Linked DNA regions of Homo sapiens: region 2 is linked to region 1. Evidence: fine-mapped expression QTL. Tissue or cell type: prefrontal cortex. Region 1 holds a variant in brackets; the other region holds the start of a gene. All regions are shown on one strand. Distances are from middle to middle.

Evidence for each region. PIP is the estimated chance that this variant, and not a neighbour inherited with it, causes the effect.
Region 2: it holds the start of GREB1, and the variant in region 1 is fine-mapped to the expression of GREB1 in prefrontal cortex (CommonMind, PIP 0.95).

The regions. Positions count from the first base shown.
Region 1 is chr2:11,608,068-11,616,170 of GRCh38, forward strand. GREB1 (growth regulating estrogen receptor binding 1) reads left to right here. Exons shown (of 33, transcript NM_014668.4): 18 at 2,621-2,960; 19 at 4,428-4,543; 20 at 7,024-7,223. Among named protein-coding and RNA genes, the nearest start is that of NTSR2, 58 kb to the right of the region's middle. The variant C/CAAA (reference allele first, on the strand shown) is at 4,126.
Region 2 is chr2:11,529,619-11,537,721 of GRCh38, forward strand. GREB1 (growth regulating estrogen receptor binding 1) reads left to right here and starts at 4,427. Exons shown (of 33, transcript NM_014668.4): 1 at 4,427-4,636.

The sequences.
Region 1 (8,103 bases):
TTTGAAAAATCCCAAGAGAAGACTGGCTCAGCCTGAGTTGGGTTTCCATACCTGAACCACTCTATTGTGGCTGGCAGGGCAAGGTCACATACAAAGATCATAGCTCCCATGAGAATTCAGGGTCTAGTTTATTTTCTATCTACGACATTGAAGATTTCATCTCTAGAATTTAATTTGTGATTTTTATATCTTCACTCAACAAGTTCAGTCTTTCCTCTAGATTTTTAACCATATAGAATATAGTTACAATAATTGTTTTAATTTTGCTGTCTGCAAATTCTGTCATCTGTGTCATTCCTAGGTCAGTTTCTACTGATCAATTGGTTCCCCCCCTTTATTATGGATCATATTTGCCTGCTTATTTACATGTCTGGTAATTTTTGAGAGAATACCAGACGTTGTTAATTTTACCTTGTTGGGTGCTAGATATATTTGTATGTCTATAAATACTGAGGTGTTTTTGTGATACAACTAAGTTACTTGCACACAGTTTAATCCTTCCAGGTCTTGGTTTTAAACTTTGTTAGTCAGGACCAGAGCAGTATTTAATGTAGCGCTAACTTTGCCCATTACTGAGACAAAATCCTCTGAGTAAGTACTCTACAATGTTTCATGACTCCGAGGTGTTCCATATTGGCTGTGGAAACAGGAACTATTCCCAGCCCTACATGAACTTGAGACATTGTTCCCTTTAATTCGTTTGCAACCAAAGGATTCTTGTTTTGGCTTTGGGTCATTTCCTTACATATGTGCACTGCTCATATCAACTGAAGACTTTAGGGAGACCCTCTGCAGATCTCTCCTCTTTGGTACTTTGCCCTGTGATCTCTAGCTGCCTTGGCTTTCCCGGAATCTGATACCTCTCCTCAACTCAGGGAGACCACCGAGCTTTGGCTGGCTTCCCTCTTCCTGAGTACATCCCAGAAACTGTAGGCAGAAGCTGGGGGACTCACCTAATTTGTCTCACATTGTTAGGATCACTGTCTTTCACTGCCTGATGTCCCATGTATTGAAATGCAGTTGTTTCATTTATGTGTTCAGTTTTTCAGCTGTTTCAGATGGGAGGATAAACCTGATCCCGTTGCTCCATCTTGTCAGAAGCAGAAATCTCTGTCCTTTGAGCAGAGCCCATTTTCCCTACTGCACTTTCTTTCTTTCTTCCTGGGCATTATTATTTTATTTATTTATTTATTTATTTATTTATTTATTTATTTAGAGATGGAGTCTCGCTCTGTGGCCCAGGCTGGAGTGCAGTGGTGATCATGATCTTGGCTTGCCACAACCTCCATCTCCTGAGTTCAAGCGATTCTCCTGCCTCAGCCTCCCAAGTAGCTGGGATTACAGGCGTGTGCCACCATGCCTGACTAACTTTTGTATTTTTAGTAGAGGCAGGGTTTCATCATGTTGGCCAGGGTGGCCTCAAACTCCTGACCTCAGGCAATCCGTTTCCTGGGCATTATTTGACAGGTGCACCAGGGGTAGGTAGAGCAGTCCCTGGGCTGCTGAGTCCCCTTCATGCCAGAGTCTGTGGACCAGTTATACCTTCCTAGACAGCCCTGGTAATGGCAAGCTTGCCAGGCCAGCTTCCAGCTTATGTGACCTGCGTAGTGGATGAAGTGCTGAAGGAAACATGAAGAAAAGGAGGAGGATGGTCAGGAAGAAGGAGCAGGGATGTCATCGCAATGTCAGAAATGCTATCAAGTGCTGTAGGAAGGCGAGCTGGCTGCCCTGATAGAACTCACAGGGTGGCATGGCCACGGTATGGTACTCATTTTTGTAGGTCGAGAAACTACCTTACCTTTGCTACAAAAAGCCAGAGTCAGGAGGACCCATTCCAGCTCAATCAACCCAGAAGAACATTGTGCATAAACTGGATACCAATTTATTTATTCACGTTGAGAAACACCATCATCTACAGGGACCTGGGCTTTTCCATTGGTGCCCTGGGGTCTGTGTGACTAACGGGTCAGAGCCACTCTAGGAGAGCAGGTGGTTGTGGGAGCAGCCACCACCTTTGTGTGGGGACACAGATAGTAACCACAGTTTCTGAAGCAAAAACTGGGATTCTTGATTTGGCTGGATATGTTCTGATTTGTAATTAGTCTGTCAAAATACGTTTAGTTATATTTCTAATAATTCACTGTGATCGAAGTGAACACAGAGATGGGCCTTTAGAACTCGGGCCTCCGGTAGCTGCATTTCCATATTGATTGCTGGTGGTTCTCCTGTTTCTAGTAGGAACCAGAGGCAACTTAGTCCCCTCCTCAGAGAGCTGCACATTGTGCTGATAGAGACAAAATAGGCATTTATACCATTTATTCATCTGCTCATTCATTGGACAAATATTTATTGAGCAGCTACTAAGTGCCAAATGCTGGAAAAACGTAATAACAACAAACCTATGTTTTTGTTTTCCAGCTGGAAAAAACAAAGGACTGTATAATTTGATTTCTAAAGAAGGCTTCTCATTCAGGTTCCCACAACCACCTTCCAGAGGCAACACAACTGCGTATAATGCCGGAGTTGCCTGTGGTAGAGTGACGGATGTCTTGGGTGACTTGGCAGCAGCAGGCCGGTGGGCGCGGCCGTCACAGACATGGTCTCTCTGTGTTCCTTGCAGGTTCCCCCGCCTGCACAGCGCGGTGATCAGGACCTTTGTTCTCGTGCAGCACTACGCGGCCGCCCTGATGGCCGTAAGCGGCCTCCCGCAGATGAAGAACTACACGTCGGTGGAGACGCTGGAGATCACGCAGAACCTCCTCAACTCCCCGAAGCAGTGCCCCTGCGGCCACGGGCTCATGGTCCTGCTGCGGGTGCCCTGTTCGCCCCTGGCGGTGGTGGCCTATGAGCGGCTGGCCCACGTGCGGGCCCGGCTGGCGCTGGAGGAGCACTTTGAGATCATCCTGGGCAGTCCCAGCTCAGGCGTCACCGTGGGGAAGCACTTCGTAAAGCAGCTCAGGGTAGGTGCTGTGCGCAGGGAGGGGCGGAGGGCCTGGGGGTACCTGGGAGAGCTGAGGGGCCCACCAGAGGCAGGGAGTGTCACGAACCCCACAGCGTGGCCAACGTGGCTTCCCTAGACCCAGCCACCCCTCAGCCTCCTCTCTGTGCTTCCCCACCTCTGCCCTCCGCCCCAGCAGCACCCCCACACCCCTGCAGCATTGCCTTATGACTTTAGACCTCTGGGCAACAGCCTGCTTTCTTTTTTCCTGGGCATCCATTTCCTCTCTTCTTTGTTTAGCTGATGCTTCTTTATTTTCCCCTTTGAGACAGGGTCTCACTCTGTGGCCCAGGCTGGAGTGCGGTGGCGTGATCACAGCTCACTGCAGCCTTGAGCTCCTGGGCTCCAGGGATCCTCCCACCTCAGGCTCCTGAGTAGCTGGAACCACCAGCGTGTGCCACCACACTCGGCTAATTTTTAAAATTTTTAAAATTTTCTCCATGTTGCCCCGGCTGATCTCAAACTCCTGAGTTCAAGCAACCCTCCTGCCTCAGCCTCCCAAAGTGCTGGGTTCCAGGTGTGAGCTGCCCTGCTTATTTTCTGCAGCACTTAGGTTGGTGTCTTTCCTCTTTCAGGAAGCCACCCTCCCCCTCTGCCATGCCCAGGGCAGTGCCATGCTCCCTGCCTGTCATCTAGCCCCTCTCCCAGATGGTGGGGGGCAATGGCCATCCCCACAGAACTCAGCCCCCAAAGCCTAGCACAGCGCCTGGCCCATAGTAGGTTCTCACTCAATCTGCAGGTGACAGAAAATGCAAAAGGTTTAGGGAAAGAACAAATGAGTGGAAAACAGGAATGAAAGGGAGGACACTGTCAGGAGAGAGCACAGGCAAGACATAAGGAACAGCTGGTTGGGCGCGGTGGCTTACACCTGTAATCCCAGCACTTTAGGAGGCCGAGGCGGGCGGATCACTTGAGGTCAGGAGTTCGAGATAAGCCTGGCCAGCATGGAGAAACCCTGTCTCTACTAAAAATACAACAATTAGCCAGATGGGGTGGCGTGCGCCTGTAGTCCCAGCTACTCGGGAGGCTGAGGCAGGAGAATCACTTGAACCCTGGTGGTGGAGGTTGCAGTGAGCTGAGATTGCGCCACTGCACTCCAGCCTGGGTGACTCAGCGAGACTCTGTCT[C/CAAA]AAAAAAAAAAAAAAAAGACTTAAGGAGCAGCTGACAACATAGACTTCCTTTCACGGAGCTGGTCAGCTGATAGAGATGTCTTGGACATGCTCTGGCTGGCTAATCTCCATGTTCTAGCCGACTGAAAATACGGTGGCCAAGTGGATGGTGTGCTTATTTGCAGTCTAAAGAAATTTCCTTTTGGTCAGAAGATATAGTTCAAGGAGTTTAAATTGGTGTGGGAGGCCATCAGGATTCCTCTGAGCTGGGCTGGTTGGGAAGGGAGGCGTCTGTGGCTTTATTTCTTTTTCGTTATCTGCAGATGTGGCAGAAAATTGAGGATGTGGAGTGGAGACCCCAGACTTACTTGGAGCTGGAGGGTCTGCCTTGCATCCTGATCTTCAGTGGGATGGACCCGCATGGGGAGTCCTTGCCGAGGTGAGTGGAGGGGTTATGCCCCTGGGGGTCTCTGAGGAGCTGGCTGCCTGGGCCCCCTCAAGGAGCATGTCAGGGGGGCTGCTGTGCCCTGACGGTAGGCAGCACCACTCACATTCACAGGCCCCGTGGGTGGGGCCTTCATCGTGGCTTTCCCAGCATGGGCCTGAGTGCGTCTGAGGCCCGTGCCCCTTCTCCTGATTCTCAGAAAGGCGCTGTTTGGGCTCGTGGTGACGGCTGTTGCCAGGCTCTACGGGTGGAGGCTCTGCAGGTGGAGTCAGGATTTCATGCCTCCTGAGTTCAGTGTCTCCCCATGGGGCGCTCTGTGTGTGCTGGGGATGGCAGTTCTGCTTGGGACAGTACGGCATCCTCTCCAGGAGTTGCAGCCACAGTTCCTGCTGGTACCTAGGCTGCCGCAATGCCTGGGCCCTCCCGGCTTAGGAGGCGTTCTGGGAGTGGAGGCAACTGACGCTGCTCGGGAAGAGCTGGTTCTTCCAGCACAGAGTGGACTGTCTCAAAAGATGTGTCCCTCTGAATCCATCACAGCCTGGAAAGTCTTAGCCACATATCCACTCGATGTCCGCTGGTGTGGGGGGTCTCTAGGCCACCACACAGACATGCGGACACTCGAGACTCAGGTCCCTGGGCCTCCTGTAAGGCAGTTTCTTGGATTGGTAGTGACAGATTGGGTTTTAGAGACTTCATACCGGTGGAGAAGAGCAGACGGCCAGCAAAAGATAGCAAAAGCCGACATCAGTGGAATTCCTGTTATGTTCTGGGAACTGTCCTAGATTCTTCTTTTAGGTTTTATTTCATTTTACTCTCACCTTAATCCTGGGGGAAAGGTGCTATTTCAGTAGTCCCATTTTACGGATGAAGAAACTGAGGCTTACTGAGATTAAGCCAGTCTGGCCAGCAGTGGGCCTGGCTTCTTCCCCCAGGAGCACCCCACACTTCAGCAAACGGCCCTGTGCATGCTGCATACTCATGGGCCAGGGGAAGGGGGCTCCAGAACATTTGACCTTGCTTGTTGCTATTTCACATGGATTAATTCTTTTCTTCTTCAACTCCTTAAGGACTGAGACAATGTCTTAATCTATTTTAAATTTTAGCAAGCATTTGCTGAATACCAGGTACCTTCTGGTACCTTCTTTGTACCAGGCATCATGATAGACTTTTCATATGAAACTTACTCCTTGCTGCAGTAGTATTACCATCCTGTTTCATGGTTGAGTCAATGAACGATCATTTGCTTGAGGTCATGAGCAGTAAGTTTCAGAGCCCCACTGGAACCCTCACGTACCCCTCTCTAAGCCCTTTGCCTTGGTTGTGTTTCTGCTGCGCAAGTCTGAGCACGGGGTTGGCCTTTCCTCTGCTGCTCACAGATAGCATTGCTTGTTGGTGTCCGACTTGATTGCCATCATATTTCTAGCATCTAGTACCCTGGCCTGTGTTCACTTGGATTGAATAATTAAATGCTCACTGATTACATTTAATCTTTATCACAGCGGACTTAGATTTTTTTTTTTTTTTTTTTGAGACGGAGTCTCACTCTGTTGCCCAGGCTGGAGTGCAGTGGTGCAATCTCAACTCACTGCAGACTCCGCCTCCTGGGTTCAAGTGATTCTCCTGCCTCAGCCTCCCGAGGAGCTGGGATTATAGGCACCTGCCTCCACACCCGGCTAATTTTTGTATTTTTAGTAGAGATGGGGTTTTGCCATGTTGGTTAGGCTGGTCTTGAACTCCTGACCTCAAGTGATCGGCCCGCCTTCGCCTCTCAAAGTGCTGGGATTACAGGTGTGAGCCACCACGCCCAGCCAGATGGTTATTAATATTCATTCCCATCTTTCAGATGAAAAAATCAGAGCCTCAGAGAAGTTGTGCAGCTTGTCACGGCTTCTGTCGCTAGGAAGTAGCAGAGCTCAGGTTCAAGCCCCCCCTTTTTGTTGTTGTTGTTGTTGTTTGTTTTGTTTTGAGATGGAGTCTGGCTCTGTCGCCCCGGCTGGATTGCAGTGACACAATCTCGGCTCACGGCAAGCTCTGCCTCCCGGGTTCACTCCATTCTCCTGCCTCAGCCTCCCGAGTAGCTGGGACTACAGGCGCCCGCCACCACGCCTGGCTCATTTTTTGTATTTTTAGTAGAGACGGGGTTTCACCGTGTTAGCCAGGATGGTCTCGATCTCCTGACCTTGTGATCCGCCCGCCTCGGCCTCCCAAAGTGCTGCAAGCCCCTTTTTTATCTGACCCAAAAGTTAGTGCAGCACAGAGCTAAATGCATAGTGGGTGTCCCCAAAGATTTACTATTATACTGAATTTGTTGCTGCAAGCTCCCAGTAACACTGTTGGCTTTTCCACTTGTACGAGTCCTTGGGTCCTCACCAGGAAGGTGGGGTGTGGTCCCGATCAGTGCTGCCTGCCGCAGTGGGAACAGCACTCCACTTGTGGAAGGCACTAAACAGACACCTTCTTCTGTGTCTTGCTAGGTCTTTGAGGTACTGTGACCTGCGATTGATAAACTCCTCCTGCTTGGTGAGAACAGCCTTGGAGCAGGAGCTGGGCCTGGCTGCCTACTTTGTGAGCAACGAGGTTCCCTTGGAGAAGGGGGCTAGGAACGAGGCCTTGGAGAGTGATGCTGAGAAGCTGAGCAGCACAGACAACGAGGATGAGGAGCTGGGGACAGAAGGTGAGGGATGGCTGCCCTCAGCCTACTTGTCCCTGTCTGCATGTCTTTCTTGGCTTCTGAGCTTTGAGGCTGCCTGTGCTTATGGAGACAGCTGTCTCCAGTTCAGCAGGGTCCTGGGACCTGTCTGCTGGACAGCGGCTCTGGATGAGAGGTCTCCAGTGTTGGATGAAATGGCAGAGCTCTCACTGAATTCAGATTTTGTTTGTTTTCTCCCCATCTCTTTTGGTGGTGTGAGAAAATGGAAATCCCTATAGGTTTTTCCTAGTTCTAGAATTCTTAAAGAATAGGAAGAAAAATTAAGATTTCTTAGAGTTCAAGTTCAAAATTTCTTAGAGTTCCTCGTTCCACTCACTGGTGGAATTCCCACCTAGTGTGATTTGCTTGTTTATTTCCTCTGTGAATCAACCCAACAGCGTGCTGTCCATTTTTAAGAAGTGTGAAAACAGGCTCATTTGCAGACTCTTCAAATCTGATGCCGCCTTTTTAATAGGACACATAAATGATAACATCGCAAGGCATTGACTATAGTCAACAATGTGATGAGAAAGACGTAGACAGTCATTCAAAAACTAGAAAGCATTTGTGGAGTGTGTGGAATGGAAGGAGGTGGGTGTGGGCACCAGCGCGGGTCTGTGGTCTGCCTTGTCTGTCTTGACTGTGGGACCTCTCTTAGCCTCAGCTTGCTCGTCTGTAAAATGTAGATGGAAAGGCCTGCCCGCCTGTAGCCATCTTTTCGAAGCACGGCAGAGACTCTGATTTAATTCTTTCATTTGTGAGTATCTGCTGCACGTCTCCGTGCTCCCTGGCATCTCAGGACCCCCTTCTTTAGTTTCACCATCTGCTTCTCTCTACCCATAGCCCGCATTGCACTGAGCACTGG
Region 2 (8,103 bases), 78 kb before region 1:
ATAGTAATGTTGATTGATACAAGTTATGTGTGTACCCTCCTGACACACAAATGCTAGAAATACCTCAAATAGACATAACATGTAGATTGGGAAGAGAAAGTGGTATATTTATATCATAAAATACTATACAGCATTGAATGTGAATGACTCACAGGTACAGGCAACATTGTGGATGAACTTCAGGAACATTGTATGAGGCAGAAAAGCAAGTCTTAGAAAATTCATACAGCATGAGCCCATTCATACACAGTTGAGAAATGTAAAACTAAACAAAACTAAATGTAAAATGAAACAATATGTTTCTTAGTTTAAAAGTTAAATGAAAATTAAGTTAAATTGGCTTGTCAGAAATGCTAAATTTGGAGGCTGTAGCCCAGAGGTACTGAAATAGAATCTGCATTTTAATAAGACCCCTAGGTGATTTTTTATTTTATTTTATTTTATTTTATTTTTTTCTGAGACAGAGTCTCACTCTGTTGTCTAGGCTGGATGGAGGACAGGGGCACCATCTTGGCTCACTGCAATCTCAACCTCCTGGGCTCAAACTATTCTCCCACCTCAGCCTCCCTAGTAGCTGGGACTACAGGTGCAAGCCACCACACCCAGCTAATTTTTGCACTTTTTGTAGAGATGGGGTTTCACCAGGTTGCCCAGGCTGGTCTCCAACTCCTGGCCTCAAGTGATCCACCCACTTTGGCCTCCCAAAGTGTTGGGATTACAGGTGTGATCCAGTGCGCCCGGCCCTAGGTGATTCTTATGCACACTAAAGTTGATCTTTGCCAAATAGGAAAAAAAAAAAAAGTAAAATCTATGTTAAAATTTAGGTTAAAAGTTAAGTTACCAGGAGGCTGAGGCAGGGGAATCGCTTGAACCGGGAGGCGGAGGTTGCAGTGAGCTGAGATTGCACCACTGCTCTCCAGCCTGAGGACAGAGCGAGACTCGGTCTCAAAAAAAAAAAAAAAAAAAAATTAAGTTACAATTAAATCCATCATGTTGTTAAAATCATGAAGAGCAAGGGAAAAATAAACATAAAATTCAGGATGTGAGTTAATGGGGGGCAGGGATGGAGGACAAGAAGGGGACTTCAAAGACGATGATGAAGTGCACCTTCACCAGAACCTGCATGTGGTGCATGGTGTTCATCATATCATGAGTCTGTGCAACATACATACCAATATTCTTTTGTATCTACTTAAGTTTAATACACACAATTTTTAAAAAGGGGTTAGAGTGAGGGTTGGCCAATGTGGGAAGGCTGTGTGGGGGAAATAGGATCTGAGGCTGGCCAGGAAGGGTGGGGAAGTTTGGTGTTTGCGGAGCAGACACCGGCTCTCTCTGGCCAGAGAAGCCCTTTGTACAAGGCTGCCCATCCCAGTCCATAACTCCATTAACCCCCCCAAAACTAGCCTAGTGCCAGGGAGAAAGAGTTCCCTAGGTAGGTGGGCCTGTTTGGAGGGTGTGGGCAGGTGCCCTGGCTGCTTCCTGAGTGGCCTCAGGCCCTGTACTGGAGGTCAGCTCAGTCAGTGTCACCCAGGCCTGGGGATATTTGCTTCTATTTAGCTCCCAGTAGGTTCCCAGTTTACTGTGGGAGTGTAGTTGCTTGACGCATACAAGCAGATGTTGAGCTAGAGCCTAGGCTGCCAAGGAGCTGGTTTAGTTCAGACCACTAATTGTATAGAGGTTAAGTGACTTGCCTGCTGGAGATAGGCAGAGCCAGGTTGGTGCGACTCCAGCATTTGGTTCCTTTCATCTGTTCCACGTTGTGCAGCCTACAGAGAGATTCAAGCTTGACGGAATTTCATGATTATAATTTACCCCAAAAAAGCTGTTTATAAAAAATGCATGTGATCATTTGTAAAAAATTTAGAAAATACAGATGATTAGAAACAAGAAAAAAAAATTGCGTATAATTCTTGCTTTTATTTTATTTTTAAACATTTAATTAATTAATTAATTATTATTATTATTTTGAGATAGAGTCTTGCTCTGTCATCCAGGCTGGAGTACAGTGGCACCATCTTGGCTCACTGCAACCTTGGCATCTCGGGTTCAAGCGATTCTCCTGCATCAGCCTCCCAAGTAGCTGGGATTATAGGCACCTGCCACCATGACCAGCTAATTTTTGTATTTTTAGTAGGGACAGGGTTTCGCCCTGTTGGCCGGGCTGGTCTTGATCTCCTGACCTGAAGTGATCCACCCGTCTCGGCCTCCCAAAGTGCTGGGATTACCGCATGAACCACCGCACCTCGCCTAATTCTTGTTTTAAAATACCCACTGTTAACATTTTAGTGTATTTCCTCCCAGTCTTTTTTCTATGCATTTAAGAAAATTACAATTAGATTAGGTGTTAAAGATGTGAATGATACCGCTTTCTCTCTTTATATATACTTTTCTCTGCTTTCTACTATTGTTTCGTACTTTCTGTCATTTGAATATGCCATATTAAATATGTTGAAATTATCTTTGCTAAGGAGTCAACATTAGCAAGAATAAAGTGGGAAATGTTCATTTATTCCTGAAGAGTTTAGCAAAGATCATATATTCGAGTCATTAATTCTTGCTTCTTAACTGCTTGAAAATCAACCCGCGTATAGGAGCCCTTCATCAGTCAACACTCTCATGGCACTTATTTCTGGTAGGGGCCGGGAAACAGATGGGAAAGACAACTTCCTAGGAGCTCTGGTCTTGGAGCGAGGGAGGTTCATGAAAATTATACCTATGTTCAATTGTGGCCAATAAAATAAAGAAAATCAAGTGTGAATGGTTTCCTTGATCAGGGCTTGCTTCTGAAGGGCAGAGCTGATAACGTCCTCACTTTGAGCAAAAGCCACAAAGTAGTTATCTTTCCTTACGCCTTTAGTTTTTGTTTAAAGGTTCATTACGAACTTTAGCAGTGAAAAAAAGTGTGGCAACTGGGTCATTCTGACCTAGAAGCAACCAAAATACTTCTGATTGCCGCAGCAGACAATGATGAATCATACCTAAACAAGTTTGCTGCCTTTTCATTTCTGTGGGTCGTAATCAGACTCATTGTTTTGTAGCCAGTGAGACATTTGCAGCAGCATGTTTGGGTCTGTGGGAGGAGGGAGGCTTGCAGATCTTCCCAGCGATGTGTGTGCTTGTCCCCACTAGCGCAGTGGAAACAGTGTTCTTGTTATCCAGGTTTAAGCCCTGTTAGGGATATGGCTTGTCCATTGTCATCGTGATGATACTGCTTAAAGATATCCTTTGTTGAGCACCTGCCATATGGCAGACGGTGTAAAAGGTGCTTTACGGTCCTGGTGTCATGGAAAGCCTTCCAACAACCTTATGATAGAGGTATTATTATCTTCATTTTGCCAAGAAAACTGAGGCTCTGGGAAGTTAAGTCAGTCACATAGCCAGTAGATACCAGGCACCCATAAATGTTTGTTGAGTGAATGAATAAATGAAGGAATGAATGGCAACTCCAAACTAATGGGAGAGAAATGCAAGAAGAGAGAGACTGATCAACATGAGACAAAAAACTTGGTGCTACAAGTTAAGAGGTTTTGCACATCCCAATTATTCATTTTTGCAATTTTTAAGCTCCACTTTCAAATAGAGACGGGGATTGGGATGGGATTTCAATGCAGGCGAATAACACAAGACAGATGGAGGAATATGTTTATGATCAGCAAAGAGATCACTCATCTTGAAAAAAACAGATAAATGGGAAAACACTGAAGTGCCAGCCACAGTACTAAATACTCTACTACATTATCTCATTTAATCCTCACAAAGTCAGCTTTGAAGTCAGCACTGTTATCTCTGTTTATGGCTGAGGAAACTGGAGCTCAGGGAGTGAGGGAGGCTGTCCAAGGTCACACAGCTCCGGTGGGTGAGGGGGCAGGGACTGGACCCAGGCACACCCAGCTCCACAGCGTCCCTGAGACTCTGTAAACAGAAGCCGGGAACAACAATTTCATTATTTATGCTTGAATTTAATTTTGTGTTTGATGGAGGAAAAAATGGATGATACACAGATTGCTACCAACAAAACCCAACAATTGGTTCTTTGAGATTCTAGCTTAGTGCAGGGAGAAAGGCAAGCCGGTGATGAACGTTTTGGGGTAGCCAGAAACAATGAACTAGGGGTGACTGGTGTGAAATTCAGTTGTGTGGACCATATTTTCTAAACTAGAATCTGCACACCATGCTCTCCCGCCATGTTCTCCCCTAGGAGAAAATTGTAGCTTGCAGGCAGAAATGTAAACACATAATCAATTCTACTATAACTTGATATATGTGTTCCTAAAAATTATTGCACCATGCAAGATTGGGCAATAAAAACCGCAGGGTTTATGACGAATACAGGCTTAGGGCAACAGCTCTCAAAAACTTCATCAATGACACATTTTTTAAAAAGATAAAAACCTAATAAAAAGGGCAGCACCGTTTTACACATGCTAAATGGTTAAGAGATACATAAATACTGCAGTAGAGATGGGATTTTACCTCAAAGTGCAAAGGTAAATGAAATAAAGTTTTTTCAATGGAAGGCTTGCAGCTCTTGAGGACCTGCCAAATGGAAGAAGGACAGAGACCTGGAGCCCTATGGAAAGTTCTGACACCATGTGTGGAAGGACATGGCTTTTAACACGTGTGGTGACTGGAGGTAGGTGGTAGGTGCTTGAGGCTGGTGTGTGTGCGCCTTTTGTATATTCTCAAGCAGCTGGGGTCAGTTGGGCACCATTTTTCTGAACTTACTTTTGTGTTTCTTGCAGAGGAAATCACCAGGCACACACAAAACCCACAAGGTATTCAAATTGTTCTGTAATATGTCAATCTGTCCGTACAAATTTGCAGTTTCAAAACAAGCGTTATAGCTGAACTGACTGTATGTGGGAACATCACTGCAACTCTTGCTGACCCTGTGTGCTGAAGTGGGGAGCGTGCGGCTTTCATACCCCCAGCCTTTCTGCACAGCTCTTCAGTTTACCTGGGGGCCCCTCAGCAGTAAAGCCAGATCAACAGGCTCACCCGTGAGAGCTCCTCTTGTGTGATTGTTGAGTGGCTCAGTGATTGGGTTGGTTGGGAAACAGAGTGTGGCCCTCAGTCTTCCTGAGGATGGTAATTAGAGGGGGATGTGTGCTTCTTCTTCACATATACCTGGTTGTTCTCTGATTGCTTTGGTGTCTTTTCTTCTGTTTCTTCTCCTGGATGTTGTTTTCATGTTTCCTTCCTTAAGTGCTACATGACCCTTGGATTTTCATGTGTGTTTAAGAGTGAGGCAGAGAAGGTTGACTGGGAGTGTTGTGTCCACAGGGGGCGCTGGTGTCTGGCAGGTGTCACTTTTGGGGTGCTCAGGACAGAATCAGCTGGCATTCTGGAGGCCTCTGAATGCCAGACTGTGCGTTAGCGGCTCTAGTTCTTGTTGGTTGATTCAATTTGTATCAGAAGAGCTTTCGGTATTTTTTGCCTGGGGTGAACGCCTGGCTCCTGGGAGATCTGCATGTGGCCCTGGGGTGGGAGGTAGAGGAGCTACCTGCTCTGTAGACAGGATTTCACAGAAGACCCCTGGTCCCAGCGCTGCTGTGCACTCCTCCCAACACTTGTCTGGCGTATCTGAGTCTCTGCATTTCCTCAGGGCCAGTTGGTCCCCCCAGGTATGCACCCTTCTCCTGTGTCAGCTCCACATTCCCTCTCTAGTCTGGCTTCTGGAAGTTTATGAAACCTGAACCTCTAGTTAGCTAATGGCATCCCTTCCATCTTTTCATCACTGTGGCTTAAAATACCTCACCCCACTTATTTATTTATTTATTTATTTATTTTTAATTCAGTATCTTTTGAAGGTCATCTCAGGAAGGGCCAGGTACCATGTTGAATTAGAAGTTAATTCTCATACCATAATCTAAATGTCTGTTTCCATTAAACAGCATTTTTACAAGGAAAGGACTTTACTCTTCGAGTTTCCAGTGCCTGGCACACAGGATGACACTTAAAAAATAATAATAAATAAATAATAGAGAAATAAGGTGTGTGTTGATTGAAATACATTGATTGAGTTCTTTGGTTACTTCTAGGTCTGAGAGTCTAGGATTCGGTGATTCAAGGGGAGAGGCTGAGGAAAGTCTTTAACTAGATGGGAAGGCTTGGGTCCTTGGGTTTTCACGAGTATAGAAAAAGGTTGCATTAGCCCCACTTACATGATTTGTTTTATCTTCCCCACTTCCTGACCGTGCCCACTAAATCTCTGAAATCTCTGGGCTGTCTACATTTTGCCTGGATATGGATGTCGGAATTGTTCATCTTCTTTCTTCTTGCTGCCCTGAACTCTTTTTTTTTTCCCTGTAAAATGCAAACACTACCTTGTAAATAAACTCTTATCAGATACCTTCTATTTCCTAGGCACTGTGATTGGCCAAGGGCGTACATCTGCATGTTCTCTGCTCTCCTGGGGATCCCAGGCAGCAGGGGAGAGAGGGAAGCACACAGATTAACCATGGTCCTGGGAGACCACCGCAAGCCTGGAGCATACACAGGAGTGGTGGGGACACAAAGAGAATGCCCAGCTCAGTTTCGGGAGGTCAGAACCACCACACAATTGAAGAGATGCTTGAACTGGGTCTTGAGGGATGAGGCAGCGGGAACACAGCATGTGCAGAGTCGGAGGTGTGACAGGATACGGAGGCACTGCTTGTGCCCCAGGCAGTCAGCAACCAGGCAGTGCCAGCAGCACCAACCCCGCATGATTTGTCCCAGTAAAGCTTTGTCTTCTCTAGTGATCTGGAAACCTCTCAGGGAAACATTTTGTAAAAGCCAAGCCATATTTATTTATTAATGGTGGTTATATAGTTTCTAGAGCATTTTGTTGGATAGGTAGAGACTTTTCTGCTTTTTGAAAGTTATCACTCCTAGCCATTGTGGCCAAAAAGAGAAAAATGCCAAAAAGTGCCAAACTGTGGCTATGATTGTCATGTTTAATGTGGAGAGGATTTGGCCAGGGGTAGAAGAGCATTATGTATAGAATAGAACAAAGAGATTTATGGCAAGAAGAGATACTGGCATTAAGCAAAGAATTGCAGATTTAAACTGAGAAGAGAGCCGCACAGCAGATGGAGTTAACACTGGAGGTGAGCTCTCTCCTCTTTAGGTACCTCATTGCTATTTTCACATCAAAAGCCTATTTTTGACAGTAATTAGAAAGCATAGTGGGTTCAAAGTCATTGCAATTCACACCTAATGAAGGCAAACTTTGCTAATTTTCTCCTCATAATAGTAAGTTACATCAATTTTAAAAGTTAGCAATTTACAGCACAGTTGAAAGAAGCATGTTTTAAAAAACCTTGAATTCTTAGAGGCAAGTACCATAGATATTTTCTTTTTTTTTATTTTTCTTTGAGATGGAGTTTCACTCTTGTCGCCCAGGCTGGAGTGCAGTGTTGGAATTGTGGCTCATTGCAACCTCCTCCTCCTGGGTTCAAGAGATTCTCCTGCCTCATCCTCCCAAGTAACTGAGATTACAGGCACCCGCCACCGCGCCTGGCTGATTTTTGCATTTTTTAGTAGACATGGGGTTTCACCATGTTGGCTAGGCTGGGATTGAACTCCTGACCACAGGTGATTTGCCTGCCTTGGCTTCCCAAAGTCCTGGGATAACAGTCGTGAGCCACCGCGCCGGCCGACATTTTCTTTCAGTCCCTTTTACACATTTAATTTATTTATTCACAGGTGGCAAGCTTCATATTGGTAAGAATTGTTACTATTATCCTGGCATGTATAATATTATATATGTGCCAGGTACCATGCTAAGCACCCTATACATACTAATTATTAAATCCACACAACTCTAAGAAGCAAGTACTTTTCTCCCATTTTTCAGTTGGGGAAACTGAGGCACATAAAGGTTAAGTAACTTGCTCAAGGTCTAATATCCAGTAAGTGAAGATTCAAACCCAAACCTGGCTCCAGAGCCCATCATCTTAAAAACTCTACTGCTTAAACTCTCTTCCCTTCTCTAAAAATATAATAAATAGTATATACTATTTTAACATGTTATAAGTTTATATATTATATAAAAATATAAAAATATTTTATATATTATATATTACATAAATATCATATATTAGATAAATATATGAT